Linked DNA regions of Homo sapiens. The protein of the gene in region 2 purifies or fractionates together with the protein of the main gene of each other region. This does not show direct contact. Each region holds a gene or a part of one and is shown on either strand. Other genes may lie near its edges. The genes, in order: CYP24A1 and ZNF254.

Region 1 (15,898 bases), on a different chromosome or scaffold from region 2:
ATTATTTTGACATAATTTCAGAAAAGTTACATGAACAGTACAAAGAATTCCCATATACCATTCACCCAGATTCTTCAAGCATTTGCATTTTACTACTTTGGTTTTGTCCTTCTTTTTCTCTCTTTCTACATACACAGACACACAGACACACACACACACACACACACACACACACACACACACACACGTCTTAACTCTGAATGCTGAGCTTGCCTAGAAGCAGTAACATCCCAGTAGCAACAAGCACCAGGAGCCAAAATCTCGATTTCTAAATGTTCTTTTCTACTGAAACAAATTAGGACTTCTTGAAGAAACAGATGATTCCACGGTGGGGCAGGTAAAGTACAAGATCAGCCTGGAATATTTTATTGTTCCAGAAAGCAGGAAGTGCTCAAAAATGGTAACAACATGTCAAAACAAACAAACAAACAAAAAACCAGCAACAATGCACAGGAACCTATTTAAAGAGGCTCCCATTAATCAAATCTGGGGCAATCTGAATATCAAAATGAATAATGACAGTGTAAAAATTATAACCCATTCAAAAACATAAGAATCTGCAAGCTCGCACTGACATAAATAGACATAAATTATAAATAATTAATTCTTCCTGACAGCACGACTGTAATCTCAGCACTTTGGGAGGCCGATGTGGGCAGATCACAAGGTCGAGAGATCGAGACCATCCTGGCCAACATGGTGAAACTCCCTACATAGCTCACCACAATAGCAAGTTTATATGCATTTCTGTGATTATTTGATTGACATTTCCTCCCCTTGTTCTTCCCCATCCTCCGTAGTAGGATACAGATGGCGTAAGAGCAGGGACATGTTTATTTTGGTTTGCCCCTGTACCCATGATGCTTGGCTTACAGATCTTCATAGGCACTCATTAAATATTTCCTTTTACCTGGTTGTCCTAGTTGTAATGTTTACAACCACCATTTATGGTAACCAATAAAGCTAGGCAAATTTCCCAGGACTCGTGCCAAGTTGTAAATCCTCCTCTCCAAGGTCTTCTAGATTACCAGGTCATACAGTGCCTGTCACAGGGTAGATGCTTAGTGACTCAGGGCAATTGTGATTGTCATCAGTAACACACGCTGCTCAGTGCTCGTAGCTTATTATGACACCTTTCTGGTCCCTATTCTGTCTCCCTCAAGGCTGACTCCATATTTTAGCTTTAACAAAATTTCCAGGGATATTTGTGGGAAACCAGTACACAATAATATATATGGAATTCAGTCCAGTTGGCTTTTGTGATGTCCAAATAATTTTTTTGAGAGAGAGGAAGGGAAAAATAAAAAGAGAGAAAGGAAAAAAAAATGAAGGAGGAAATGGAGAGATCAAAGGAATTCCTCAACGTTTGTAGCAGGGATTCTACAGACCAGGTACTGCTCCCCCGGAGAGTAGGAATTATTTATGGGGAAATTACTTACACAGGGGATGGAGTGAGGTTGCATTATATGCACACTTAACCCAGGCACATCCAACCATCCATGCTTGGAGTGGAAAGATGACTATGGAAGGATGTAGCCCAGGTGATTCCAACACCCTCACTCAATGAGAACAGCAAGATGAGAAACGAGATCCACCTCTTGCCTTATTTCTCATGCACATCTCAAAATGTGAGCTCCTGATGCCCTTGGTGTGGTTCTAGCATCTGAGGAAGTGCATTTTTCATGTGACATGGCCCCTAGACATAAGCCAACTACTTTAGGTTGTTTTCACCCACTAGAGCAGAAAGCTTTTCCAACACCGGAAGGAATCCTCTGTGGATTAAAACCCATTTATGCCTAGTGTTCCATTAGTGGAACGCTAAGCTTCTGGGAGTTATTGAAATCCCACTGCTTAAGGTCATCGCTAAGGTCTGATTTTTCACAAAAAAATTTGCAACCTCTGGCATAAATGGGTTAATGAGGGATGAAACTATGTGTTTACGGTATACTTTACAGATAATTGAAGGGATGTAAAGTTTACCGTAACTCTAAGAAATTTTTACTCTGGTTGACTTTCAAACCTAAATCCCCAGTGCGCTTTCTCGCTAATGAAACACCTGTGAGTTCCATACCCCTTAAACTTCATGCTGATATAGCAGGAAAAATCCTAGATTTTATTTTATTTTTTGATATTGAATTTCACTTTTTTGCCCAGGCTGAAGTGAAGTGGCATGATCTCGGCTCTCTGTAACCTCCGCCCCCCAGGTTCAAGCAATTCTCCTGCCTCAGCCTCCCAAGTAGCTGGGATTATAAGCACCTGCCACCATGCCCAGCTAATTTTTAGTACAGATGGGGTTTTGCCATGTTGGCCAGGCTGGTCTCGAACCCCTGACCTCAGGTGATCCATCGGCCTCGGCCTCCCAAAGTGCTGGAATTACAGGCATGAGCCACCGTGCCCAGCCAAAAAACCCCTAGATTTTAAAGTTGTTAACTTCACCAGGTTTTAATTCTAGAGGAGTCATTTCCCAACTGTGTGACATGGGGAGTTTACTTAACCTCTCTGAGCCTTAGCTATTCAATGGACGTTAACATATGCGATGCACAAGTGTTCTCATGAAGATCAGAAAATTTGAAATGTACGTAGCTCGGTGCTGAGCATAGAGCAGGGATGGTGTCCAAATTCTTATTTCCTCAATCAGAGAGGCAAAAGTCAAACAACTCCCTTTACAGGGGCAGAACCTGTCAAAAGAAATGTGCTGGGCCCAAATGGGAAAAATGAGACAATTACACCATCTGAAAATACAAACACGATCAGTTTTACCTACTTGTGGAGCAGAACCTAAGAGACTTATGGGAAATTAATTTTTTTTTAAGTGAAAGCAAGTTTATTAGGAAAGTAAAGGAATAAAGAATAGCTACTCCACAGGAAGAACAGTAGCATGGGCTGCTTGATTGAGTAGACTTGTAGTTATTTCTTGATGATATGCTAAACAAGGGGTGGGCTATTCATGAGTTTTCCAGGAAACAGGTGGGCAATTCCCGGAACTGAGGGTTCCTCCCCCTTTTAGACCATATAGGGGAACTTCCTGATGTTGCCATGGCATTTGTAAACTGTCCTGGCGCTGGTGGGAGTGCCTTTTAGCATGTTAATACAGGAAATTAATTTACTTTTCTGTTTAGAGTCTTCTTGGGACTGATGGAGAATCACCAGGACAATTACAAAATACAGTGGACTCCATCAACCCAATGGTCTAATCATGGGAGGTTTTACCCTAAATACTGGAAACTACAAATCCACAGATTAAATTTGATACATTTGGTTTGGTTCAAATCTAGTTGCCAAATAGTGATTTTTCTAATCCCATCAATTTTGTATACTTTTATTTAATTAATTTATTTTTTGAGACAGAGTCCTGCTCTGTCGCCAGGCTGGAGTGCAGTGGCATGATCTCGGCTCACTGCAACCTCCGCCTCCTGGGTTCAAGCAATTCTCCTGCCTCAGGAGAATCTGCCTTTCTCCTCCCAAGTAGCTGGGACTACAGGCGCGTGCCACCACGCCCAGCTAATTTTTTGTATTTTTAGTAGAGATGAGCAGTACATGACGTGCATCCCACAGGTCCGGGAACCAATCTATCTTTGTTGGAATCCTGGCTTCCCTACATACTAACTGTGATTCTAAGGAGATTACTGAGCACCTCTGTGCCTCAGTTTCCCCAGGTGTGAAATGGGAAGAATGATCACATCTACTTACAGGGCAGTGACAAGGATTTGTGAATTCATATGTAGCAAGTGCACAGAGGAGAGACTGGGGCAGCAAGATCAGTCAATAAATATTATTATCATCATGACCACATTGGCCATGTCAGTGTCGGCTCCAGGCAACCTGCTCAGGGAGGTGAGGGGCAGCAGACGTGGCCCTTGCTCCACCCTGTGCTCCTCACACCCATTTGCCGGTCTTTGTGCCCTTCGCCCAGGTTTTTCATGCTTTGCTCCTCATGGCTGGCACCTGCAGCCTTCTTCAAAGACTACCTTCTGGCTACTATAGCCATTTTGCCTGGACATGTAAAGTCTAGAAGTATCTTAGAGTTTATACCCCAAGGTGCAGCCTGAACTGAAGGAGTGTGGAAGCCCTGCTCCCTGGGCACAAGGAGAACAAACTGAGCTGCAATGTACACTCCAGAGCTCCCAGAGATCAGGCTGAGGCTGGAACTTCACTCAAAACCACACGCTTGTTTGGCTTCTTTCCCTTCCTCATCCTGCTGTCCCCACAGTCGCACAGGTCTCCTTGGGAATCACAACCCTAATGAATCCCGGTGCTGGGGACAGCCCCTGTGGGATCTAAGTCATCAAGGAAGATTTCCTTCAGGAAATGAAAGCTGGGTGGACGTAGATGGTGCGTAGGAGAAGAACAGGCAGAGAAAGAGCATGCCGGGAGGGAGACGGTGGGAAGAACCCTCTTGCTAGCATTTAAGGAACAGCAGAAACTGGCAGAAGCCACTGTGGCCTGGTTCCAGAGGCCTCTGGGGGTGGATGATGTGGGCTGAGGCCTGGGGGATCAGTGGGACCTCAGTTGATAGGGCCTGGAAGTGTGGATTGCAGAATCGGATCTTTACGTAAGAGCAATGGGAAGCCCCAGAGGCAGGATGAGGCATGATCAGGTTTGGGTTTGAAAAGACCAGTAAGGCAAGTGTGCAAAGAACAGAGGGGAAGGAAGCAAGAGAGGACTGAGATCAGCTGGGAGCTCCTGCAGAGACTAGAGATATTAGTGGTCCAGGCAAGAGATTGTCAGTATTGCTCCCAGCCACGGAAAATTTGGCTGTTGTAGGTCTTTCATTGTGAAATGTAAACTTATTCTTGGGAATTAAGTATTCAAACAGTGAATGTGGTAGGCAGGGGCTGAAATGGTTCGTAACCTCTACCTGACTGCCAAGTGCCAGCCTCCCTTTCATGTCATGAAAGATACAAGAGAGAACAGGCTCCCAGGCCGTTCTACCCCCCTTTCAATCACACAACCAGTGTGTGACTGATTGTGTGATTGGAAAGGGGGTAGAGATAGAAGTAACTGGACTTGGGAAATATTTAAGCAGCAACAAAATGGAAAGTTATTTTGCAATTACAAGAATAAACTTTCAGTAAAACTGCTATTAAAGTCTAGATTTATCTAAGGGTAAATTTTGTGATATAGGGCTTGTAGGCCATATGAGAAAATTTTCTACCAGTAAAATAAAGTTTGAATTTGTTTTTATTTTGTTGTAACAAAGGCAATAAAGAGGGGAAGTCTCTCAAATATTTAAAAACTTTTATTTTTACTTTCAGAGAATTTGAAGGTATACAGATGAAATCTGACAAGACGTGAATTTATAATTCTAAAAATAATTTCACAGCAGAGAGAAAGCATATACCTAGATATGTACATATTTATTACAATATAAAGACATAAATGTATATTTCTGAAATATTCTAAAAATATAATGTAGGAAGAAATATTTATCAAATACACAGAATTATATACAGTATGCATTTAGGAAAAGCAGTAGTAAAAATATGCACAAATAAACCATCTGTAAACACAATTTTTAAGTCTTATAAGTATTGCATGCATTTCTGTGCATTTTACATTTATGAAATCATATTTTTCCTAGGAGTTCAAATCACAAAACAAATGTTATATAACAGATCTCTAACTTTTGCATGCTTTACACTTGTCCCATTTAATAGACAGAAAAATTATGGCATGGGAAATCATTTTATAATATTAAAGTCACACTGAATGTTTTTAAGCTGTGACTAAACTTTGAAACATTGCCCTGCACCACAGATCCTAAATCAAGTACTGCAAATATTAAAAAAATGACTGAGGCAAATTACCATTAGAACCCACACACACATACACGGACACACACACACAGACACACACACACATGCATGTCTGTGCTTCATATGCACATACACAATTTAAAAATTATTGCTTCATCTTTACCCTAATGCCATAAAGGAATCACATTTAAAAAATAAACAATTTTAAGGTCCTCTAACAAAATAATGCCCCAGTGAATCACTAGTCTTATAAGTTGTTTGACTTCGTTAAAGTCCTTTTAAAAATAGAGGTGTTCTCTAGTTTCCCAATAATGTTTTTATTTCAATGCAGGAAGAACGCAATTTCATGGGAGGCCTGATAACTTTAACCATCATTTAGCTTGGCTTACATTATTAAGCAGGGACATTTTCCTAAGTAGTACATTAAGCAGAGCTACAGTAAATGGATTGTCAGTATTACTCCCAGCCCCAGAAAATTTAGCTGTTGTAGGTCATTCATTGTGAAATGTAAACTTATTCTTGGGAATTAAAGATTCAAACAGTGAATGTGGTAGGCAGGGCCTGAAACGGTTTGTAACCTCTACCTGACTGACAAGTGCCAGCCTCCCTTTCATGTCATGGAAGATGCAAGACAGAACAGGCTCCCAGGCCATTCTAAGCACCTGAAGATGGTGCTGACACAGGTGAAGTGTAAACCAGCAGTGAACCCTGTAGAATGCCTTGGATCCCAGCACTCAGTCCGCTTCCCTGAGTTGGATATGATGTTAGCAAATACCACCATCTAGAAAGACAGTACAGCTTCTGGAACAATTTTGCAGAAGAAAAAGTATCAACACCTGGGCCTAAATATTCTTTATAAGCTGTTGTATGGTGTGGTGTTTGAAGTTTGCTTTCCGGTAACGTAGAAGCCATAAGCACCATTCTTGCAGAAAAGTTGAAATGGCTGTTTTGGTCTTGGTAAAAAAAAAAAAAAAAAAAAAAAAAAAAAAAAAAAAAAAAAAAAGGTATACCCTAATTGTATATCAAAGAAGTGTATTTAAACAAGACAAATTATTAGCCAAAGAAAAAATGCTAAAACTTAAAAGGTGTGGCTTACTGTGATAAACATGCATGCTCTTTGCTGAAGGCTGGGGTGTCACAATGCAGCTAGAATACTTTCCTTACCCTACTTGATTCAGTTCTGTTGGTTGGGATGCTCAGAATTTGACAAATTTCATAATAGCATCAGACACTTGGTGGAGGAATAATAATGTATTCATTTGGGCCTTGTTCAGAAATTTCATCTGTAATTGCATGTTTCTCTAAATAATCTACCAATAAGCAAATGCTCCTTAACTTGCCATTGGCAAACAGCATTTTTTTCTAGGAAAATCCTAGAAGGTGCTGCTAAAAGAACACAATGATAGAATCCGGGTTTAAACACCGACATGTCAGCCTATAAAGCCATATGTTACAAATGTCTTATTTCCACCACCAGGGGTGGTGGCTCACACTTGCAATCCCAGCACTTTGGGAGGCCGAGGCGGGTGGATCACGAGGTCAGGAGTTCAAGACCAGTCTGGCCAACATAATGAAACCCCATCTCTACTAAAAATACAAAAAATTAGCTGGGTGTGGTGGTGTGCACCTGCCTGTAATCCCAGCTACTCGGGAGGCTGAGGCAGAAGAATCGCATGAACCCAGGAGGCGGAGGTTGCAGTGAGCTGAGATTGCACCATTGCACTCCAGCCCAGGTGACAGTGTGAGACACTGTCTCAAAAAAAAAAAAAAAAAAAAAAATTAGGGCCTTCTTAGGCTAACTTTTGATCACTTCAATAGTTTTGAATTCATTGTAATGTCTATTAGGAGAACATAACTAGACTTACTAACTCTTAATTTCATTAAGGAAATTATTACTCAGGACGAGGCCAACATATGCTATTTGGCTTATGTTATTTAAAGGAAATAACTCAGTAGTATTGAAATAAATAGCACCTGGTTGGTATATGGACATGGCAAAAGTTGTGGAGGGAACATGAGAACTCCTCTATTGTCAGAAAAAGTATTGAATGGCATACTGCAGAAAAAATATTCTATTGTGTTCAATACAGGCTGATAAATATATACATTTATATTACATGTGGTTGCATAACACAAACCTAGACCCTAGGGCTAAATACAGTCCACCGCTTGTTTTTTATAAAATTTATCAGAACACAGCCTTTGTAGGCAGAATAACAGATCTCCTAAAATGTGAATGCCCTAATCCCTGGAACACGTGAATATACTACCTTATATGAAAAAAAGGGCTTTCCAGATGAAATTAAATTTATGAACTTGGAGATGGGAGACATGATCCTGGATAATATCTTGTCAGACAGAAGCAATGTAAGAAGAAAGAGAGATTCAAAGTGTGAGAGGGACTCAACCAACCATTGTTACTGGCTTTCAGTTGGGGAAGGTTTCATGAGCCAAGGAATATGGGAAATCTCTCAAAGTTGAGGATCGCCTTCAGCTGACAGCAGCAAAAAAATAAAGACTTCAGTCCTGTAACCATGAAGAACTAAATTCTGCCAACAACCAAACTAGCAAGAGAATAGATCCTCCTCTAGAACCTCCAGAAAGAGCCCCGACAACACGATAATTTTAGCCTGGAAGAGCCTCATCAGACTTCTGACCTATAGAACTGTAAGATAATAGATGTGTGTCGTGTAACTCACTAAGTTTTAGTAATTTGCGGTGGCAGCAATAGAAAGCTAGGACATCAGCTCACTCATTAGTTTACAAATTGCCTGTGGCTGCTTTCATGTTCCAAGGTAGTATTAAGAGGATGTGACAAAGACTGTATGGTCCATAAAACCTAAAATATTTGCCAACTGGCCCTTTACGGAAAAAGTTTGCCAACCCTTACTATTCACATGCAAAAACCATGAACAGCTGCTAGCATTTACTGAACACTTAATTGATGCCAGGCTCAGGAATAACTACTTGGTATTCATATTAAATTTTTGTGATACACTCTCTTTGGGTCATCATTTTACAAATGAAAAAAAAAAAGGAAGTAGAGAGTTTAGGGAACTGCTCAAGGTCACCCAGCAAGTTAGAGGTGAGCTGGGATTCAAACCCCAGTCTGGCTGACTTCCCAGCATAGCTCATCCCTCGTCATTCTCACTACCTTGCAGAGGATAATGAACCGCCTAGATGCTCACCTGAGGCGTATTATCGCTGGCAAAACGCGATGGGGAGTTCCCGGCTGGGCACCAGGGTGCCTGAGTGTAGCATCTCAACAGGCTCATTGTCTGTGGCCTGGATGTCGTATTTGCGGACAATCTGTAATGCACACGCACACAAAAACAGAATTACCCCTCTCTTCTTCTGCCTTGTGAAACAGCACAGAACATAATTGCAGAAACCGGTAAAGGTTTTACCCAACAAAGAGCCAAATGCAGTTGAAGCTCTGCTAATCGGCGACCAATGCACATTCTTTTTCCAACGCCAAATGGAAGATGCGCAAAAGGATTAATTTTTTCCTTCTCCTGAAGCCAACGTTCAGGTCTAAACTGACTTGAATCTTCAAAATTGTCTTCACTGGATCCCAACACCTGGGTATTTAGCATGAGCACTGTCTAAACACATGCAGAGACACATAGTATTTAAAATAACCAGAAGAGACCTTTGAATGGCAAAATTGACACAAGTTGTCACCTTACAAATCAAAAGCCAAATCCACAAATTTATAATAATGATGGTTGCCAACATGCGCTGAGTGCTTAAAATGTGCCAGGTAATAAATAGGTAAAGGGCTTTAGAATTGTGCACCATACTCACAACCACCCTGCGCAGCAGATTCTGTTATTAAACCCCTTTTACAGACGAAGTTGAGGCTCACAGAGATTATGTAACTCACTCAAGACAACACAGATAAAAGATGAAACTGAATGCAGGTCTCTGTCTCCATAGCCGTGAATTCTAATTCTATACTATGCAACATGTCAACTATTCTCTACCATCTCTGCATTCCCAAAATGAATATTTTCCAGTACAAAGTCTAGGGAGATCTGGTGAATATTTGCAAAGTGTATCTTCCAAGGTTTTGTAAGGTATAGAATATACAAATTCTACTTACTCCTTTGGGTAAAGCATATTCACCCAGAACTGTTGCCTTGTCAAGAGTCCGAGTTGTAAATGGTACACTCGGCGTAAGCCTGAAAAGATAAAATCAAAGATGTAAAGGTGAGCACAGTCTAAGTTCTCTCTGAAGTGTCAATGGGAATGCAGATTGGATTAAATAAATGCTGCCCAAGTGCATACTCAAAGAGGCAGCATGATCACAGATCTTCCTAAAGAAGTTGTTTTTTTCTTCTCAATAATTGTATCTCTTGTTCCTCTCATCTTCTTGAGTTAGTTAAAACCCCAGTGCAAGGCTGTTTAGTAAACTGTTAACGTTGGTTTTCCCCCTTCATTCCAGACTAAAATGTGTATGTTTCCGTGCTAGCCCTTGAAGCGTGATGTTTGTTCTATGTTTCTCCAATCTACTCTTCACAAAGTTGACAGTATCCTTCTAATCCTAAAATGTTGTGAGTTTTGTTTTCCCAAAAGGATGTAAAAAGAATTTCCAAAAAATGTTTTATACCAGAGGCTCAAAAGCAAAGCTTTCTCTGTGTCCTATTATATAATAATATAGCTCTTTTGTGAGCCTCCATCTCATAACCTTCAATCATGCCCCTATCTTAATTAGTGCTTACAGCGTTCATTAGAGTAGCAAGATTATTGAATTAAAGGGGAGGGCACTGGCTTTCCAAGATTTAATAGAATTTGCCCAAATGATTTAGGAAATGAGTGCCAGAAAAGAAATATGGCTCCAAAGATTTTTTTGCAGTGTGATAATTGTTTCTAATTAGCTAGGGGAAGCCGCCCATGAGTAGGGGACCACTTGTTTTGTGTTTACGAGAACAGTGTTCTAACACATTTATATTGGCTCAGAGATAGGCTCTTACCTCATAGATTCTTTCAGACAGGCTTTTAAATACGGCATATTCCTCAAATCTTCTGCCCGTGGCACCTGATTCTCAGGTAATACACTTTGAATTTCCTTAAGAAGCTTTTGTTGCACTTGGGGATTACGGGATAAATTGTAGAGAATCCACATTAGACTGTTTGCTGTCTGCAAGCCAAATGGACATAAACTTGAGTTTTTGTAAATAACTGCATTAAACCACTATTAGCTGAAAAAAAGGTGATGCCCACCACCTTATTCTGCAAATGTATCAGTGAAGCTCTTTCACGCGTCCTTATAGCTACGCCTTTAGACAAATCCAATATATAAAAAAGCAGACTTATTTCATAAAACATATCAATTAAGGATATATTTTAAATTATTTACTGAGGGAATCAAAGTATAATCCTTTAATCAGCTGCTTTAGAACATTTAAATACAGTTTTTTTTTTTTTTTGAGATGGAGTCTCACTCTGTCACCCAGACTGGAGTGCAGTGGCACTATCTCGGCTCACTGCAACCTCCACCTCCTGGGTTCAAGCGATTCTCCTGCCTCAGCCTCCTGAGTAGCTGGGACTACAGGCATCCACCACCATGCCTGGCTAATTTTTGTATTTTTAGTAGAGATGGGGTTTCACCATGTTGGCTAGGCTGGTCTTAGACTCTTGACCTCAGGTGATCTGCCTGCCTCCAAAAGTGCTGGGATTACAGGCATGAGCCAACTGTGCCTGACCTAAAATACAGTTTGACGCAATAATTGTTCGAACACAAATGAGTACATGTAAAATTGGTGAAATGAGAATATTAGTGGGTTAAATCAATGCCAATTTTCAGATTGTGACAACGTTTTCTCGTTAGACAGGACATTACTATTAGTGGAAAACTGGGTAACGGATGCAAGGGATCCCTTTCTATTTTTTCTTAGAACTGAATGTGAATCTACAATGATCTCAAAATAAACATTTAATTAAAAGTTGCTTGATATAAAAAACATTCATATAAAAATGGAGTAAACAGAGAGGGATGGTGATCCTCAGGGTGTTGCTAATGAGAGGCTTTAAGAGAATGTTATAGTGGAAATGGACAATAAATGGCATTTCTGAAATTTAAAAGTTCCTTTGGCCACACCCTAAAAAGTCACCACAAAAATAAACAGGCACTACCTACACTGAGGGTTACAACCACATGTAAACAGCCCTCATACGAGGGTGCCAACACCAAAAATAAGAAATTCAAACATTGAGCTGAGTACTCCAGCTACAGTTTCTGACAAAGGCCCACACCCTTTTAAGTGGCATCTTTTATTTCCTCTGCACAGGCAATGACTAGAGAAAAAATATTGGTGGAAACAGCCAATGTAGCTTTAAGCTACATAATATTCACCACTAGTAGTCATATGTATTTATTTTTTAGGCCGTACTTTGCTAATTTAAGCCAAATATTTCCTGAAAATGATCATTGTGTCCACCTCCGCAGACATGAAGACGCTGTTGCTAAGTGCCATGTGCCACTCACACAAATGAGCACCAAGTGCAAGACCATTCAGAGATGATGGTTATTTTATTATTTTTGGAAGAAGATGCCTCCAAGGCAGTCTTCTTCATGTCAGAGGACTGGCAGCCTCGGCTGCAAATAAACTGTAGATGCCATTATTATAAGAGTCTAATTTACAAAACAGGAAGAGGGTGTAGCCATCAAATTAGATACACTTTCAAATGGTTCTGATTTTCCAAATGTGACTTTCAGAATAGCCAGGACCAAAAAAGAAACAGATTTAACCATATCAGTGAGTCCCTCACCGCAAGTACCAAATAGAGTTTCCAAAGGGCAGATGACTGTAGCTTTTACCAAAGCCACGTAAGGCAGTCTGAGCCTGTAGGGAAAACTGCAGGGGCTAAGCTGCAGCAGCTGATTTGAGGGGAAGTGGCCTGGAAAACCTCAGGGGCACAAACTATCCTTGATTGACCTCCATGGAACAGACCAAGCTCATTGACTGGCCTGCTGTACCCACTCTCTTGGCTAAGTCTATTCTCCATCCACCAGCCAGAGCCCACTTTTAAAAACATAAATGATCAGGTGATTCCCTTGCTTAAAATGCTGCAAGAGCTTCCCATCACAGGTGCAATCAAATCTAATGCCTTACCCAGGCTGGGCTCACAAGGCTCTGGCTAACATGGCCCATCCAATTCTCCAGTCTCAGCTCTGACCACATTTACTAGTTCTGTAGCTCCATCCCTCTTTCTGCCCCAGGGCCTTTGCATGGGCCGTTTCCTCTACCTGCAGCGCTCTTCCACGAGGTCTTTCTGTGGCTGGCTCTTCTCATTATTCCAGAGTCAGCTCCAGTACTGCTTTCTCAGAGAGGGCTTCCCTTTAATCATCTCCATCTCTCTATATTACACCATCCTGATGGCGTCCTCCACAATCCACACCACTATCTAAAGTGACCACATTTGTTTGTTTACATGGCTACTGTCTGTCTTCCCCACTTGCATACAAGTTCCATGAGAGTGGGAACCCTTGTCTCTGGTTCATGGTGGTCTCTCAAGAACCTGGAACAGTCCCAGGCATACAGTAGGCACTCAATAGTTCCTGAATTCCTTCATTTATTCAACAAGTATCTATCAGCCGCTACTAGATGCCAAGTACTGTTCTATGTCCTGGAAACACAGCAGTGGACAACTCTAAGCCATTGCCCTCAGAGAGGTCACGTTCCAGTTGAAAAAATAAAAGAATAATGGGTGACACTGTACTTTGATCACTGGAAGGAGCCACCCAGGGTAAGCAGTTCAACAGGAAAGTGAGCGAGGATGGATTCCCACTTTCAACCGCCTTGTGGAGCAGGAGGAGAAATGAGAACCTCGCTATCTCCTGATAGAGAAAACCCTACCTTTACTTCAGGCAAGAAACAGCACAGAAGGGGAAGCACATGGAAAATAAACAACTGCTTTACATTTTGCTTAGAGACTTTAAGGTGCATGAAATGTTGGACTTAGGAGGAGGTTAGCGTGCGCCACTCCCATCACAGCTCGAACTAGTATCCAAGTCAATTAAACCTACCTGAATGCCTATGGCAGGATTTGTTTGGGGTTGGTCTCACTTAGTATCTGCTATCTCCTAGGGAGTATCGGCCACATCAGAGACAGAATTTTGGTCTTTACAATGAGCTGTTTTGCTTCAGTTAAAATCCACTTGTCCCAGACTCTTTGGGACTTTGTTTACAATTCTAAGCAGATAAAAATATTATTGGCTTGAAAGAGAGTATGCCTTTTTTTTTTTTTTTTTTTTTTTTTTTTTTTTTTACAGTAAGTAACAGCCACAGTTAGGCACTTTGGGGTAACATGTGCAACTGAACAAAATACTTCCAATTTTGAAAAATCTGGATTCTGTATCTTGCCAGGGCAGAGAACTTTACTGCTCCTGAACTCCCGTAGCAGTTTGCATGGACATCATGGCACTCATCACATCCTACTCTGGCTTTTTGTCACTGGGGCACATGAAGTCTCCTCCTACCCAGAGTTTAAGCACAGAAGCCCGTGCATGGAGGCACCGTGGCGTCTGGTATGAGGCCGTGCGCTGAGGCACCGTGGCATAGATGCTGTGCGCGGAGGCACCGTGGCATCTAGTATGAGACTTTTCATTTTTGTGGAGTTGATGCTAGTGAATCCCAGTGAAATGAATGAGATGAATTACTATTTAAAATCTGTCATCTAAAAATGGTACAGACCGTTCATTTAGCAAACTCAAATCCAGCCCACCCTTACCGTTTCCACCGCAGCCAGCTGGAGCTCTGTGACAGCAGCATACAATTCTTTCTTTGAAAGCCGATTCTGGTGATAAATGTCACAAAGGAAATCTGCACTAGGCTGCTGAGAATACTTCTCTAACCGGTTGTCGATACAAGCTTTGACTATTAGAGCAGAGAAGAAAGAGAGGAAGTCAGCTGAAAATTGGGATGAGGAAAATCACAGAAGAAAACCTCAGTCCAAACTCCTTCTTGCAATATCTAAATAGTCTTTTCAGGAACACTGACAATTTGCTACACACACTAATTATATTATTGCCTTCTTGTCAAGTCGGCAAGGATTTTTCAATACCGACATGAGCAAGGCTTCTCAAACTTTAATGTGGATAGGAGTCACCTAGGCATCTTCTCAAAATGCAGAATCTGAATCAGGGCTTGGGTAGGCCTGGAACTCTGCATTCCTAATAAGCTTCTAGGTGATGCTGATGCCACTGGGCTGCAGGTCATAGTTTTGAGTAGTAAGAGTTTAGATCTTGGGAGAAAAAAGTGTAAAAGAAGGTAGGATTTGGGTTCACTTTCAGAATCCAACTTGGACCCAGATATTACTAAGCACACATACCCCACATACATACGCACAAGTAGAGTGTCCATCCATGTTGACAATAATGGTAAAAATTTCTAATATTTATAACATAAAATCTAGGCGTGTACCTCCCTCACTATTAAGCAAACAACCACCAGGCTCATTATATGGTAATAATCATGCTGATCACATATGGCACAGCAGTTAGAGTTCGAGTCCTGGAAGCTCCTTGTCTGGCTTCAAACCTTGGCTTTGCCATCACCTAGCATGCAATCTTGGGAACGTTGGCTAACTTCTATGTGTCTCAGGTACCCCTCTCAGGGCTAATAAAAGGACCTACCTTATAGGTGTGTTGTGAGGATTAACTAAATGTGTAAGTGAACAATGCCTAGCATCAAATATTCCCCTTCGTCATGTGGCAGAAATAGATCTAGTCCACGGAGATACTGTGATATGCCAGGTTTTTATGTTAACTGTAATCTGTAGTAGACCCAGAAACAGTTACATTGAGGTAGGTTCTCTTATTATTATTATTAATTATTAGTCCATTTTAGAGACAAGGCAACTGAGGATGAAAAGGTGATTGCACATTTGGCCAAGCCACCACAACCAGTGACAGAGCTGAACTTGAACTCAGGAGTCCCTGACTCTATAAATTTTACTTTTTTATTTTGAGATGGAGTCTCACTCTGCCTCCCAAGATGGAGTGCAGTGGCTCAGTCTTGGCTCACTGCAACCTCCGCCTCCCAGGTTCAAGCAATTCTCCTGCCTCAGCCTCCTGAGTAGCTGGGATTACAGGTGCCCACCACCACGCCCAGCTAATTTTTGTATTTGTAGTAGAG
Region 2 (16,093 bases):
TTCCTCTGCCCTATTGTTAATTTTAAAATGCAGATTCACTGAGCCAGGCTAAATTGTGTATTCAGTGGGAGACTTATCAAGGACTCAAATAAATTTATTATTTTTTCTCTTATCTACTTATGACTTGGAAGCCCCAACCTCAAGTTTTCCTGTCTTACCTGACCACACCAATGTACATCTTAAACATGTTATTGATGTCTCTTGACTTTCTAAAATGTATTAGAAGACTGTACCCCAACCACCTTGGGCACCTGTCATCAGGACCTCCTGAGGCTGTGTCACAGGCTCCTACTTAACCTTGGCAGAATAAACTTTCCAAATTTATTGACACTTGTCTCAGGTACCTTTTGTTTTACACAGCCAAGGCACTGCTAGCTGGTCACTACTGCACCCCAGACTTATCCACCACCATTGCAGGGACTCTGGTTTCTTGATAGCAATTGTTTCACTTCAATGGAAGATGGACAGGTGTGTACCTGAGAATGCAGCACTGAGCTCCTGGGTGATGTGGGATGTTCCAAGCATCAGCTTTCAGCCAGTCTATCTTATAACTGTTGAAAGTTACTTAGTGTAGTGTGAAGATGGGAATAAACAGCTCCTGAATGCTAACAATGGCTGTTCATTATAGGGTGACCCAAGGTGGCCATGCCATGGTTCTGGGTTCTTCTGTGGCTTCTCAGTGGCTGATGGAGTGGTTTTTTTGGTCTTGTGATACAGGGTGTGTGTGTCTAAAGGAGTGGAGGGCAGGGTGGGGAAAGGAGGTGACAGGCAGGTTCCTGGAGGTCACCTCCTGGCATTATTCTTGTGGATTGCCAAGTTTCTTGTTTGAATTTGTTTCTTGTTAATAGTACATGTGTCCTCAGCAAGGAGGTGAAAATAAAAAAAAAGAGCTTGGAACAGTCTCAGCTCTGTGAGGTCTGCACAATTTATCAAGCCCAGAGAGATGAGACTGTGGAACTTCACCCAGGGGCATTTTTTGTTGTTGTTGTTGTTTGTTTTGAGACGAAGTCTCACTCTGTCACCCAGGCTGGAGTGCAGTGGCATGATCTTGGCATGCTGCAACCCTGCCTCTTGAGTTCAAGTGATTCTCCTGCTTCAGCCTCCCACATAGTTGGAATTACAGGCACATGCCACCACACACGGCTGATTTTTGTATTTTTAGTAGAGATCGGGTTTCACCATGTTGGCCAGGCTGGTCTCCAACTGCTGATCTCACCTGATTTGCCCACTTCGGCCTCCCAAAGTGCTGGGATTAGGGGCAATTCTTTAAAGACATTTACTTTCTGACTAGCAGTCTCACCCATTATTTCTTTATTAGGAATTTGGAAAATAAAAGAATATATGCAGCCAATCAATAGCTTATGCATTTAAATATGAATTCTTGGTAAATAACTTAGGAACTGCCTTCTCACTTTTTCAAAAAGACTCACTTTCAATGGCTGCTAATTAAAATATATATTCAGGGCAACTTAAATCTGTCCTCCTCTTGGCTATCCTCAATATCTGACATTGAGTAAATGTATTTCAGGTTACATTTTAACCTTTTTTATTATTTTAAGTTGACTGAGGGCTGGCCTGGAACATTCTCCTTGGTATAAATACTCCAACTATAAGCTACCTGCTCAGTAGAGGAAACTAATCAACAGCAGGGCCTAGCATAGGTCAAAGACACAAGCAGTGGGAAGCTTTTTGGGGCCTGGCTCCTAATTGCAAGGACAGTTGCACAGGTGTCTCTGAATGCTTAGACAGCCTGGCCTTTCCTGACCCAATGCCCCCCATCAGCTTTTTCAAGCACATCTTGATCTTTTGTCATTCTGTTCTCTGGGGTGAAAACTCATCGTCAGGGCTGTCTACAACAAAACAGAAGTATCAGGTTACTAAAACCTCAGGAACAGAGATTACGGATTGGGTTAAGAGTGTGCCCTTTCTTAAGGATGGTACGCATGGAAAAGCAGCAAGCAGTTTCAGAAAGATACAGGAAAAATTGCCTCTAACGGATATTTATACTTCAACTCAATTTATTCTGTAAGTGGTAGGGAAAATGGGATAAAATACCATATGTTCAAGCATTTTTGCTTCTCAGTCAGAATGAAACCCTGCAGCAGGCATGTCCATGTTTCATGAGAGAAATAGAAGAAAAAGAGTTGGACATACAAGATGATCCTTATTTCAAGCCCCCCTGCCACTTGGTTCAGCGGGCATTTTTGGGTGAAGCAGAACCTTTCTGTCAGGTCTGAAGGTTCAGATGTGTTGGTCTTTTTTCCCACTAATACACCTGAAAGTTCTATTGAGAACCATTTGTCCCTCCTCCCTACCCTTCTAGTCCCACTCTGTACCCACCACTCCCTGAAGAACTTAGCCCAGTGAGTACTACTCATAGTGGAGCTGCCTATCAACCTCCAAGGGGAAATCTTTGTCCACCTACAGAGGTTGCAAATGGGGAAGAAGGCCTGTGAGAGGAGGTGTCCCCTTTTCTCTGTCTGGTTTGGCTCTATAATAAGACAAGTTTGGTCATTTCTCTGAAGATGCAGGAAAATTCATAGGTGAGTTTGAGAAGTTAACTCTGACCTACAGTTTAACATGGCAGGATCTGTACATTTTGTTGTCTCTGTGTTATACAGTGGAAGAAAAACAATGCATTTTGGGGACAGCTAGGACTCATGCAGATGAGGTATTGGCTTGCAACCCGAACCATAATATATATCAGACAGGAGGTATAGCAGTTCCAGATCAAGATCTAGAGTGGAACTATCAAAGGGGGTGTGAGGACTTGGAAGAAGAGATCATATGGTCACTTGTTTGTTGAAAGAGATGAAGAAATGTATGAAAAAACCTGTTAACAATGAAAAGGTTAAGCAACTTTCTCAGGGCAAAGATGACAATCCAGCTTTGTTTTAATAGTGTTTAGTTGAGGCAATCAGAAAATATACTAACACTGATCTTGCCTCAATGAAAAGATAGACCCTTCTGGGAGTACATTTTATAACCCAGTCTGCCCCTGATATCCATAGAAAACTACTAAAAGCAGCTATGGGTCCCCAAACTTCTCTGGAACAGCTTTGGATATGGCATTTTTAGTTTTTAATAACAGGGACAAAGCGGAGGTAGCGGAAAGAGGAAGAAGGACCTCCCACAAGTTGCAGGTCTTGGTTGCAACCTTAAGCTAACCTCCCACATGGGGTTGCCCTCCTGGGTCTTGGGTTGAACAAGGGAAGCTGAAAGGTGGGAAGCCTAAACCTGGGTGTCCGAGTCACTGTGCCTTGGGCATAAATCAGGTTGCACACTGTAAGAAAACTGACCACTGGAAGAGGGTTTGTCCAGTGTTCTGAAGAGAGCCATCAGCACGTGAACTAATGATGGGTAAAACAGCCAGGCAAGCACCCAAGAGTGACGGGGACTGAGACCTTCCACCACGGTTTCCATCAGACAACTAGCCATATATCTGGAAAAGCCTCAGTATTTTTTGCCATGGCAGTTAAGAATATGAAGTTTCACCAGGTGCGGTGGCTCACACCTGTAATCCTAGCACTTTGGAAGGCCGAGGTGGGTGGATGACTTGAGGTCAGGAGTTCAAGACTAGTCTGGCCAACATGGTGAAACCCCATCTCTACTAAAAATACAAAAAATTAGCCAGAAATTGCTTGAACCTGAGAGGCGGAGGTTGCAGTGAGCTGAGATCGTGCCACTGCACTCCAGCCTGGGAAACAGAGACTCCGTCTCAAAAAAAAAAAAAAAAAAAGGAAGCTAGATGAGTTGCGAGTTGCCTCATGCCTGTAATCCCAGCACTTTGGGAGGCTGAGGTGGGTGGTCGGGAGTTCGAGACCAGCCTGAGCAACAAGGAGAAACCCCATCTCTAGTAAAAATACAAAATTAGCTGGGCGTGGTGGCACATGCTTGTAATCCCAGCTACTCAGGAGGCTTAGGCAAGAGATTCACATAAACCCGGGAGGCCGAAGTTGCAGTGAGCTGAGATCATGCCACTGCACTCCAGCCTGGGCGACAGAGTGAGACTCCTTCTCAAAAAAAAAAAAAAAAGAATATTAACTTTCTTCTGGACTGCTTACTCTGTTTTGACCCATTATAATGGGTCTGTTTCACCCCCAAACTGTATGGTCACGGGGATAGATTGACAAGCCCATAGATGCCATTTTACATAATCTCTAAGCTGTTTTTCAGTGACTTCGGTTTTCTTACATAACTTCCTTATCATGCCCGGATGCCTCAGGGAAGTCGTAGCAATTTCTCTTTCAGTAGATAAAGCCAATAAACTGGCTTTAGAACAACATTCTGAGGTTTAAGCCCACACCAAGTATGAGGAGTTCTATAAGCCAAAAGACACCAGTGGATGACAGGGGACACTTATTGAAATAGCAGACATTTTGCTAGACACTCCAATTAACCTGATATGAGGTGCTAATCAATAAAAAATAGTTAAACATTTGCATGACTCTACTCATTTGGGAATAAATTCCCTGTTTAATATCTCGGCTTTTTATAGAAAAATAATTACTTAAAAGAGTAAACCAGGTAACCCAGGCCTGTGAACTATATGCCTGGAACAACCCAAATGACCAATGTTTACCTCCTCCTTTAGTAAGGCCTGTTCAGCATAGAGGAGCATACCCTGGTGAAGACTGGCAAATAGACTATACTCAGATGCCCCCGTGTAAAGGGTTTAAATATTGATTAGTATTCATTGACACCTTTACCGTTTGGATTGAGGCTTTTCCTACCAAGTCTGAAAAGGCAATCAAGGTTTCTAAACTACTAAAAGAAATAATTCCGATGGGTACAGTATCTCACGCCTGTAATCCCTGCACATTGGGAGGCCAAGGCAGGTGGATCACCTGAGGTCAGGAGTTCGAGACCAGCCTGGCTAACATGGCGAAACCCCGTCTCTACTAAAAATACAAAAATTAGCTGGGTGTGGTGGTGTGCACCTGTAGTCCTAGCTACTCTGGAGGATGAGGCATGAGAATCACTTGAACCTTGGAGGCAGAGGTTGCAGTGAACCAAGATTGTGCCATTGCACTCCAGCCTGGGCAACAAGAGTGAAACTCTGCCTCAAAAGAAAAAAAAAAAAAGATAATATCGAGTCTCGCAAAATATAGTAATTAAGAAGATTCTTTATCACAAACCCTTGTGGCAGAGCACATCTCCTCATAGGTAAAAACATTGTAACTATGGTAAATGTGTTCCTCAATAGTAAATTAATTATTAAACTTATTCAAAATTATTTTATTTAATTTTTCAGAACAATGCTTATGTTTTGTATAGCTAATTGCTGTAATTCTTTAACAAAAACTGGGCCAGACACAGTGGGTCATGCCTGTAATCCCAGCACTTTGGGAGGCCGAGGCGGGCGGATCACGAGGTCAGGAGATCGAGACCGTCCTGGCTAACACGGTGCAACCCCATCTATACTAAAAAAAAAAAAAAAAAATTAGCCAGGCGTGGTGGCGGGTGCCTGTAGTCCCAGCTACTTGGGAGGCTGAGGCAGAAGAATCTCTTGAACCTGGGAGGCGGAGGTTGCAGTGAGCCCAGATCGCGCCAATGCACTCCAGTCTGGGCAACAGAGTGAGATTCCATCTCAAAAAAACAAAAAAAAAAAACCCAAAAAACTATTTGATTGATGTCTCATTACAAAATGTATAAAAGCAAGCTTTGCCCCGACCACCTTGGGCACATGTTCTCAGAACCTCCTGAGAGCTGTGTCACAGGCCATTGTCACTCATATATGGCTCAGAATCAATCTCTTCAATTTTTTTTTAAACCATCTGTGACAAACCCACAGCAAACATTAAACTGAACAGGAAAAAGTTGGAAACATTTTCTCTGAGAAATGGAACAAGACAATAGTGCCCATTTTCATCACTTCTATTCAACATAGTACTTGGAAGTCCCAGCCAGAGCAATTAGAGAAAAGAAATAAGTAGCGAGCCTCCAAGTTGGTAAAGAGGTAGTCAAATTGTCACTGTTCACTGATGTTACAATCATATAATTAGGAAACCCTAAATACTCATAAAAAAGCATCTAGATCTGATCAATTCAGTAAAGTTTTAGGATACAAAATTAATGTGCACATATTAGTGGCATTGGTATACACCAACAGTGACCAAACTGATATTTAAATCAAGAACTCAACCCCTTTTAAAGCAGCTGCAAAAAAATAATACTAATAATTAGGATTATCCCTAATGAAGGCCATGAAAGATCTCTACAAGAAAAACTGTAAAATATGTCTGAAAGGTATCATAGATGACACATACAAATAAAAACACATCCCATGCTTATAGATGGGTAGGGTTAGTATTGTAAAAATCATATTACCAAAAGCAAGCTACAAATTCAATACAATTCCTATGAAAATAACATCATAATTTCCTCACATAACTAAAAAACTCTAAAATTCATATGAAACAAAAAAGAACCTGCATAGACAAAGCAAGACTAAGCAAAACAAAAATAAACTCAAGATGGATCAAAAATGTTAAGACCTGAAACTATAAAAATTGTAGAAGGTAATACTGGAAAAACTCTTCTAGACATTGGCTTTGGCAAAGCGTAGATGACCAAGAACCCAAAAGCACATGCAACATGAAACAAAGACAGATGAGACTTAATTAATTCTCAAAAGAAGATATACAAATGGCCAACTAACGTAGATAAAAATGCTCAACATTACTAATGATTAATGATCAGGAAAATGCAAATCAAAACCACAATGTGATACCACCTTATTCCTGCAAAAATGACCATAATTAAAACATCAAAAATAATGCATGTTCGCATGGTTTTGGTGAAAAGGGAATACTTTTACATTGCTGGTGGGAATGTATACTAGTACAACACTATGGAAAACAGTATGGAGATTCATTAAAAAATTAAAAGTAGAACTACCGTTTGATTCAGCAATTCCACTACTGGGTATCTACATGGTGAAAAATAAGTCATTATATGAGTAAGATACTTGCACATGCATGTTTATAGCAGCACAATTTGCAATTGCAAAAGAATGGAAGCAGCCTAATTAATGCCCATCAACTAATGAGTGGAAAAGGAAAATGTGGCATATACCACATTTTCTTTATATATATATAATATATATAAATAATATATAATATATTTATAATAATATATATACACCAATGAATGCTACTCAATCATAACAAGGAATAAAATAATAGCACTTGCAGCAACCTCAATGGAGTTGAAGAACATTATTCTAAGTGAAGTAACTAAAAAATGAAAAAAACAAATATTGTATGTTCTCACTTATAAGTGGGAACTAAGCTATGAGAATGCAATGGCATAAGAATTATATAATGGACTGTGGGTACTCAGTGGCAAGGGTAGGAGAAGAGTGACGGATAAAAGACTACATATTGGGTACAGTGCACACTGCTTGGGAGATGGGTGCTCCTAAATATTAGAAATCACTACAAAAGAACTTATCCATGTATCCAAACATCTTCTGTACCTTAAAAACTTTGGAAATAATAATAATAATAATAAACAAAAAATAATCCCAAACCCCGTAAGTTTAACTTTCTATGCTTTGGCTGTTTTTGGTTTATTTTTTATTTTTTAGAAAGGGTCTCACTCTGTCACCCAGAATAGAGTGCAGTGGCTTAATCAGGGCTCATTGCAGCCTCGACCTCCTTGGTTCAGGCAATCCTCCTCCCTCCGCCTCCTGAACAGCTGGTACTAAAGGTACAGGCCACCATGCTCAGTTAACTTTTGTATTTTTTTAGATACATGTTTTTGCCATGTTGCCCAGGCTGATCTCAAATTCCTGGGCTTAAGCAGTCTTCATTTCTTGGCCTCCCAAAGTGCTGGGATTATAAACATGAGCCATCATGAGTGACCACAATCTTTTTTTTTTTTTTTTTTGAGACAGAGCCTCACTCTGTCACCCAGGCTGGAGTGCAGTGACCTGATCTTGGCTCACTTCAACCTCCTCCTGTCAGGTTCAAGCGATTCTCCTGCCTCAGCCTCTGAGTAGCTGGGACTACAGGCACGCGCCACCACGCCCAGCTAATTTTTGTATTTAATAGTGGAGATGGGGGTTTCACCATATTGGCCAGGCTGGTCTTGAACTCCTGACCTCGTGATCCACCCACCTCGGCCTCCCAAAGTGCTGGGACTACAGGCGTGAGCCACTGCACCCAGCCCAGAATTTTTTTTAACATGATATAGAAAAGCTAACTATATTTAGATCTGTTACTTAACAGAAAATTTGAATAAACGTCTTTTATTAAAAAACATAAAATTTTTTATCTACAAATATTGATACAAAACAGTTCAAAATTACTTCCTAGGGGTTTCACTAAAAATTAGTTTGTTAAGGGTATATATATATATATATAAAAACTAAGATTTCTAGGTGTAAAACAATTTTTTTATAGAGAGTGTATAAACAAAGGCCAGGCGCAGTGGGTCACGTCTGTAATCCCAACACCCAACACTTTGGGAGGCCAAGGCAGGTGGATCATTTCGAGCTTAGGAGTTTGAGACCAGCCTGAACAGCAAGGCAAATTCCAGTCCCTACTTAAAATACAGAAATAAACCGGGCATGATGGCTTACACCTGTAGTCCCAGCTACTCCAGAGGCTGAGGCTGGAGAATCGCTTGAACTTGGGAGGCGGAGGTTGCAGTGAGCCAAGATTGCGCCACTGCACTTCAGCCTGGGCGAAAGAGCAAGCCTCTCCTGGAAATAAAAAAACAGTGTATAAACAAAAGCAAAATATGCTTTTGATGAAGAAAGTTAGAAACATTTTGTCTACTTTGAAATTATTTAAAGGTTGTTTCAAATTGAAAATATAAAAATAATGTAGATTAAAATACAACATAAAAATTTAAAAAATGGCCAGGCACGATGGCTCACGCCTGTAATCCCAGTAATTTGGGAGGCTGAGGCGGGTGGATTACCTGAGGCCAAGAGTTCGTGACCAGCCTGGCAACATAGTGAAACCCCGTCTCTACTAAAAATGCAAAAAATTAGCCAGGTTTGGTGATGCACGCCTGTAATCCCAGCTACTCGGGAGGCTGAGGCAGGAGAATCGCTTGAACCCAGGAGGCAGAGGTTGCAGTTAGCCAAGATGGCGCCACTGTACTCCAGCTTGGGCGACAGAGCTAGACTTCGTCTAGACAAAAAATAAAAAATAAAAAAAAGTATAAGAGATCATAAAATATGTATAAAAATCTAGAATGGTCAAAAAGACAAATTTGATGGACTTTATTTTTGTTATTTTATTTTATTTTTTGAGACAAAGTCTCGCTCTGTCGCCCAGGCTAGGGTGCAGTGGCAGGATCTTGACTCACTGCAACCTCAGCCCCCCGGGTTCAAGGAATTCTGCTGCCTCAGCCACCCGAGAAGCTGGGGTTATAGGCGTGCGCCACCATGCCCAGCTAATTTTTTTTTCTTTTATTTTTTTGAGACGGAATTTTACTCTTGTTGTCCAGGCTGGAGTGTAATGACGCGATCCACGCTCACTGCAGCCTCCACCTCCCAGGTTCAAGCAGTTCTCCTGCCTCAGCCTCCCGAGAAGCTGGTATTACAGGCACGTGCCACTACGCCCAGCTAATTTTGTATTTTTAGTAGAGATGAGGTTTCACCATGATAGTCAGGCTGGTCTCCAACACATGACCTAATGTGATCCGCCCGCCTTGGCCATCGAAAGTGCTGGGATTACAGGCGTGAGCCACCGCGCCCAGCTGATGGATTTACTTATAACGGTTTATCAAATTAGCTTTAGTGCTGATAATACATTATTACTAAAGTAAAAGTTGATTTTCTCTTGAACAAAAATTATATGTATTATTAATATACATAAAATATGTTTGTTCACATTTTGAATACATTGAAAAAGAGAGAGAGCAAAAAAGATATAGAATTTTCCCATGCTCTGGGGTGGGCCTGGCTCAGCTCAGGGAGGAAGCCCTGCCCGATAAGGCTGCAGCTTAGGCTGTCACTCTTTCTTCAGCCTAGGGTGTGATCACATCTTCTATCACTCAGGGTCTGAGTAGGCGGGGCCTTAAACGTTATCCAACTAGGGACGTTGGGCTGGGAACTGTCCAATCAGGCACACAGCTGGACTGGACAAAGCGGCTTCCGGGATATGGCGGGGCCTTTGTCTCTCGCTGTCGCCGGAGTCCCAGGTCTGTCTTCACTGCTCTGTGTCCTCTGCTCCTAGAGGCCCAGCCTCTGTGGCGCTGTTACCAGCAGGTATTGGAGATCCACAGCTAAGATGCCAGGACCCCCTAGAAGCCTAGAAATGGTGAGAATGCCAGTCCGACATCCCGAGAGAGGGGAGGGGGCTGGTTGGAACTGGTGGGAAGCGGCTGTGGCGGGACTCAGGCCTCCCCCCAGTCAGCTCCACAATCTGCGCCCAGCTCGACCTCAGTCCCCTTCAGAAATAAGATGGCGGCTGCGCTGACAGCCAGACCCCCAGGAGTCCTGTTTCTTCCCTGCGCAGTGACTGTGCCCTGTCCTGGAGCCCTCTCTGGGCAGCTGTGGACCCGCAGCCCCGCGTCTCTCCCAGATTGTTCAGGGACCCGGGGAGGGTCGTCAGGGGAGAATCCTGACTCGGGTTGCGGGTTCATGAACGGGAAGAGCTTTGGTCTGTGGGGTTCCCAGGCCCTCTTTTTTCCCATTAAAAATTTATGGGCGTCACTGCAAAAATATTAAATACTTTAATAAAAGAATGATTCAAAAATTGTACCACACCCAGCTGTGGTTTGTACTTTTGTGGTCCATGGAAGGGGCCTGAAGAAAAGATTGTTACAAGGTTCATGATAAAGAAAACCAAATTCAATAATTGGCTAGGTACAGCAATCTAGGTTGTCGTTTTTTTTTTTTTTTTTTCTTTTTTTTGAGACAGAGTCTCACTTTTTTGCTCAGGCTGGAGTGCAGTGGTGTGATCTCGACTCACTGCAACCTCCGCCTCTTGGGTTCAAGCGATTCTCCTGCCTCAGCCTCCCTAGTAGCTGGGACTACAGGCGCCCGCCACCACAATTTTTTTATTTTTAGTAGAGACGGGGTTTTACCATGTTGGCCAGGCTGGTCTCCAACTCCTGACCTCAGGTGATCCACCCACCTTGGCCTCCGAAAGTGCTAGGATTACAGGCGTGAGCCACCGTGCCCAGCCTCGTTTCTTAATTTTTACATTTAAGGTGGGAATATCCTGGTTATGTAATCAGAGCTTAATTGTCAGCTTATTCTTGGTTAAGCAAGAATTTTGTTTCCGCTAATGTAGTAATTTACCAAAAAATGCTCTTGAGTTTAGATTTTTTTTTTAGAAGTAGAAATCCGGGGACTAGAGCCACCTCAATCTAATTGCCTGCCACTTAATTATTTTCACACTCCACAGGGGACTGCTTTTTTCCTGAAATTTTCACATGTATCCCAAGCAGGGCCTCAAGTCCACCCCTCATCCCCTATTCCTCCAGCCTAACTCTGGCTTGCAGGAAAATACTAAATTTCCCGTTTTGTCTGACATTCCCAAATGCCAATGTCCCCTCCCTAATTCACTTTATCATCTATTTGTCCTTTAGGGTAGATTTTGATACCTGTTTTAATTTTTATTTATTTATTTATTTTAATTTTTGAGACAGAGGCTTGCTCGGTCACCCCGGATGGAGTGCAGTGGTGCAGTGGTGTGATTTAGGCTCACTGCAACCTCTGCCTTATGGGATCAAATGATTCTCTTGTCTCAGTCGCCCAAGTAGCTGGAATTATAGGCGCCCGCCCCCACGCCTGGCTAATTTTTGTATTTTTAGTAGAGACCGGGCTTCACTATGTTGTCCAGGCTGGTTTCAAACTCCTAGCCTCAAGCGATCCGCCTGCATCAGCCTCCCCAAGAGCTGGTATTACAGACGTGAGCCATCTCGCCTGGCCAATTAATCTTTTTTTTTTTTTTTTTTTTTTTTTTTTTGAGACAGAGTTTCACTCTTGTTGCCCAGGCTGGAGTGCAATGGCACGATCTCGGCTCACCGCAACCTCCGCCTCCCAGGTTTAAGCGATTCTCCTGCCTCAGCCTCCCTAGTAACTGGGATTATAGGCATGTGCCACCATGCCTGGCTAATTTTGTGTTTTTAGTAAAGACAGGGTTTCTCCATGTTGGTCAGGCTGGTCTCAAACTCCCGACCTCGGGTGATACGCCCGCCTTGGCCTCCGAAAGTGCTGGGATTACAGGCGTGAGCCACTGCACCCGGCCAATTAATCATTTTTTGACAAAGCATTTGATGGCACATTTAAAAAGGTTTGTTTTCTTTTTGTAAATATTTCCTATGAGAAGAAAGCAAAGAATAATCTCCTGACACTGTATTGTAAAATATCTCTGCGTTTTTTTTTCTTCTATCTTCCCTAGTCACAGATATCTTATCAGAATGTTTTTGGGTCAAGTTTTCCTTTTGGAAACTATAGTGTGATGTGTCTTCAGTCACCATTCGGTTTTCTTGGACCTGGGTTTCAGTACTGTATTGGGATAAACGAAGATACCCACCATGGCTATGTCTGCTTAGAGTGTCTAGTAAATATCAGCTTCTGGGTCATATTCTCTCATAGGAAAATCTGAGGTATTGAGTGTAGCGTCCCAAGTGCGCAGGTGGATGCCCTGAGTCTAAAAGGCATTTCCTAGTGCACTTTTTTTTTTAAAGCTAATTTTATGAGACATTAATATTGTCTTCACCCAACCCAGCTTTCATTTCTTAAAGACACATTGCTGGTCAGTCAATCAGATACCAGTATTGAGGAGAAAACAAATAATTTCTGCCTCCTGGTTTCCTTTAGAGAACAGAAAAATAGTAAAAAATTTCTAGAAAACAAAACAAAACAAAACAAAAACGAGGGCCAGGCATGGTGGCTCATGCCTGTAATCCCTACACTTTGGGAGGCCAAGGAGGGTGGATCACGAAGTCAGGAGTTCGAGACCAGCTGGCCAACATGGTGAAACCCCATCTCTACTAAAAATACGAAAAAAAAAAAAAAAAAGCTGGGTGTAGTGGTACAGGCCTGTAATCGCAGCTACTCAGGAGGCTAAGGCAGGAGAATCAGTTGAACCTCAGAGGCGGAGGTTGCAGTGAGTGGATATCACGCCACTGCACTCCAGCCTGGGCGACAGAGTGAGACTCCATTTCAAAAACAAAAACAAACCGCAAAAAACTGACCCCAGTGAGATGGTGTAAGAACTTGCAGAGTAAAATGCGCCTGAGACACTCACTGGGGCATAGTTCAGAGTCTCCTGAGAGGGGGTTATTGAGCACTTTAGTGAGTAGGATGGGGTGGGACAGTCTCTCAAGTAATTGGATGGCCTGACTTGACACATGATTAAGACATATCTGTGTCTTGAAAAGGTTTTTTCACTTATTTTGACCTAAGGCTTGTTTTCGTTGTCTTGAGACAGTTTCCCTCTGTCACCCAGGCTGGAGCGCAGTGGTACCATCTCGGTCCACTGCAACCTCCAGATCTTGAGTTCAGGTGATTCTCATGCCTCAGCCTCCCAAGTAGCTGGGACTACAGGTGTGCACCACCACACTCAGCTAGTTTCTGTAGTTTTAGTAGAGACAGAGTTTCACCATGTTAGCTAGGCTGTTCTCAAACTTCTGGCCTCAAGTGACTCACCTGCCTGAGCCTTCCAAAGTGCTGAGATTACAGGCGTGAGCCATTGTGCCCAGCTCACCTCGGTTTTTTAACTGTGTATTGCATTTTATTAGTAGAGCTTGAAAGGTAAGAAAATATTTGCAAAGGGCATAAAAGAGGTGAGTTTCAAAAACATTAATATCTAATAATATATTTTATTTGTTGAACATTTTCATTTACCTTTTTCTTTCTCAGAGTGAGTTTAGGAAGTTTCTCGGACATGTTTTTTTTTATGGAGGAGTGATTTTTTTTTTTTTTTTTTTTTTTGAGACAGAGTCTCACTCTGTCGCCCAGGCTGGAGTGCAGTGGCGCCACTTTGGCTCACTGCAACTTCTGCCTCCCGGGTTCGAGCAATTCTCCTGCCTCAGCCTCCTGCGTAGCTGGGATTTCAGGCACACACCACCACACCTAGCTAATTTTTGTATTTTTAGTAGAGACAGGGTTTCACCATGTTAGGCTGGTCTTGAACTCCTGACCTCGGGTGATCCGCCCGCCTGGGCCTCCCAAAGTGCTGGGATTACAGGCATCAACCACCGTGCTTGGCCTATGGCTGAGTGATTTCAAACAGAATTCCATCTAGCTTTTAGAATGGTAGCTACCAAGGAAAAAAATAAAGAAAAAAAAAAAAAAATCTCTCTTCAATTTCAGCTGTAGACAATGAATACATTTCCACAAAACAATGTGATAGATAATTGATGAGTTAAATAGATTCCTGAAAACTTCAATTCCTTTTTTTAGCAGGGTAAATCCTTGGTAGTGAACATCTTTGTTCTATATCCTGTGTTTTTTTGTGTGTTTGATTGTTTTTTGAGATAAAGAGTTGCACTGCGACACCCAGGCTGGAGTGCAATGGTGCAATCTTAGCTCACTGCAACCTCCAATTCCCAGGTTCAAGTGATTCTCCTTCCTCAGCCTCCGGAGTAGCTGAGACTGCAGGCCTGTGCCACCACACCTGGCTAGTTTTTGTATTTTTAGTAGAGATGGGGTTTCACCATGTTGGCCAGGCTGGTCTCGAACTCCTGACCTCAAGTGATCTGCCCACCTCAGCCTCCCATAGTGCTGGGATTACAGGTGTGAGCCACTGCGCCCAGCCCTATATCCTGTTATTTTGATTTTTGAGTTTAATGCTAAATTTTATGTGATGAAACTTGGTACCTCCTAGAAGTGTTCCTATGTGATTAATTTTTTTTTTTTTTTTGAGATGGAGTCTCGCTCTGTTGGCCAAGCTGGAGTGCAGAGGCGCAATCTCAGCTCACTGCAAGCTCTGTCTCCCGGGTTCACGCCGTTCTCAGCCTCTCGAGCAGCTGGAACTACAGGTGCCCGCTACCACGCCCAGCTAATTTTTTGTATTTTTAGTAGAAACAGGATTTCACCATGTTGGCCAGGATGGTCTCGATCTCTTGACCTCGTGATCCACCCACCTCGGCCTCCCAAAGTGCTGGGATTACAGGCATGAGCCACTGTGCCTGGCCTTTTTTTTTTTTTTAAATGGAATTTTGATGTTGTTGCCCTGAGTGGAGTGCAGTGGGCGATCTCGGCTCACCTCAACCTACACCTCCTGGGTTCAAGCAATTCTCCTGCTTCAGCCTCTCGAATAGCTGGGATTACAGGCACCCACCACCACCATGCCCAGCTAATTTTTGTATTTTTAGTAGAGATGGGGTTTTATCATGTTGGCCAGGCTGGTCTTGAACTCCTGACCTCAGGTGATCCACCCTCCCCCCCGGCCTCCCAAAGTGCTGGGATTACAGGTGTGAGCCATCACGCTGGGCCAAGCAATCCTCTTGTACCTCAGCCTTCCACGTACCTGGGACTACAGGCATGCACCACCATACCTAGGTAATTTTTGTTTTTGTATTTTTTTAGAGATGGGATTTTTCCATGTTGCTCAGGCTGGTCTCAAACTCCTGAGCTCAGGCAATCCACCTGCCTTGGCCTCTCAGAGTGCTGGGATTACAGGCATGAGCCATTGTGCCTGATCATACCATATTTTCTTTATTCAGTCTACCATTGATAGGCATTCAAGTCGATTCCATGTCTTTGCTATTGTGAATAGTGCTGTAGTGAACACCCTTGTGCATGTGTGTTTATGACAGAATAATTTATATTTCTTTGGGTATATACCCAATTATTAGGTTGCTTGATGAAATGGTAATTCTGTTTTTAGTTCTGTGAGAAATTGCCACACTGCTTTTTACAATGGTTGAATTAATGTACACTTTAACAGCAGTGTATAAGCGTTCCCTTTTCTCTGCAACCTTGACATCATCTATTTTTTTGCTTTTTAATAGCCGTTCTCACTGGCATGAGATTGTATCTCGTGGTTTTTCTTTGCATTTCTCCAATAATTATTGATAGGCATTTTATTATATGTGTGTTAGCCACATGTTTGTCTTCTTTTGAAAAGCATCTTTTTCAAGTTTTTTGTCTGCTTTTTAGTGAGGTCTTTTT

The links.
Region 1: the proteins of ZNF254 (region 2) and CYP24A1 purify together in Homo sapiens (affinity purification with mass spectrometry; 2 studies listed by BioGRID and IntAct, with this or other methods). This does not show direct contact.

What each region holds. Positions count from the first base shown.
Region 1 is NC_000020.11:54,148,225-54,164,122, forward strand, and holds the end of CYP24A1 (1,25-dihydroxyvitamin D(3) 24-hydroxylase, mitochondrial isoform 1 precursor), read right to left. Parts: intron 14,639-15,898; coding exon 14,493-14,638; intron 10,900-14,492; coding exon 10,733-10,899; intron 9,941-10,732; coding exon 9,862-9,940; intron 9,362-9,861; coding exon 9,164-9,361; intron 9,066-9,163; coding exon 8,955-9,065; 3' UTR 8,945-8,954; exon of another isoform or gene 6,538-8,944; 3' UTR 5,222-6,537; downstream 1-5,221.
Region 2 is NC_000019.10:24,077,058-24,093,150, forward strand, and holds the start of ZNF254 (zinc finger protein 254), read left to right. Parts: upstream 1-10,129; 5' UTR 10,130-10,250; coding exon 10,251-10,280; intron 10,281-14,843; exon of another isoform or gene 14,844-14,958; intron 14,959-16,093. UniProt on the Homo sapiens protein: May be involved in transcriptional regulation.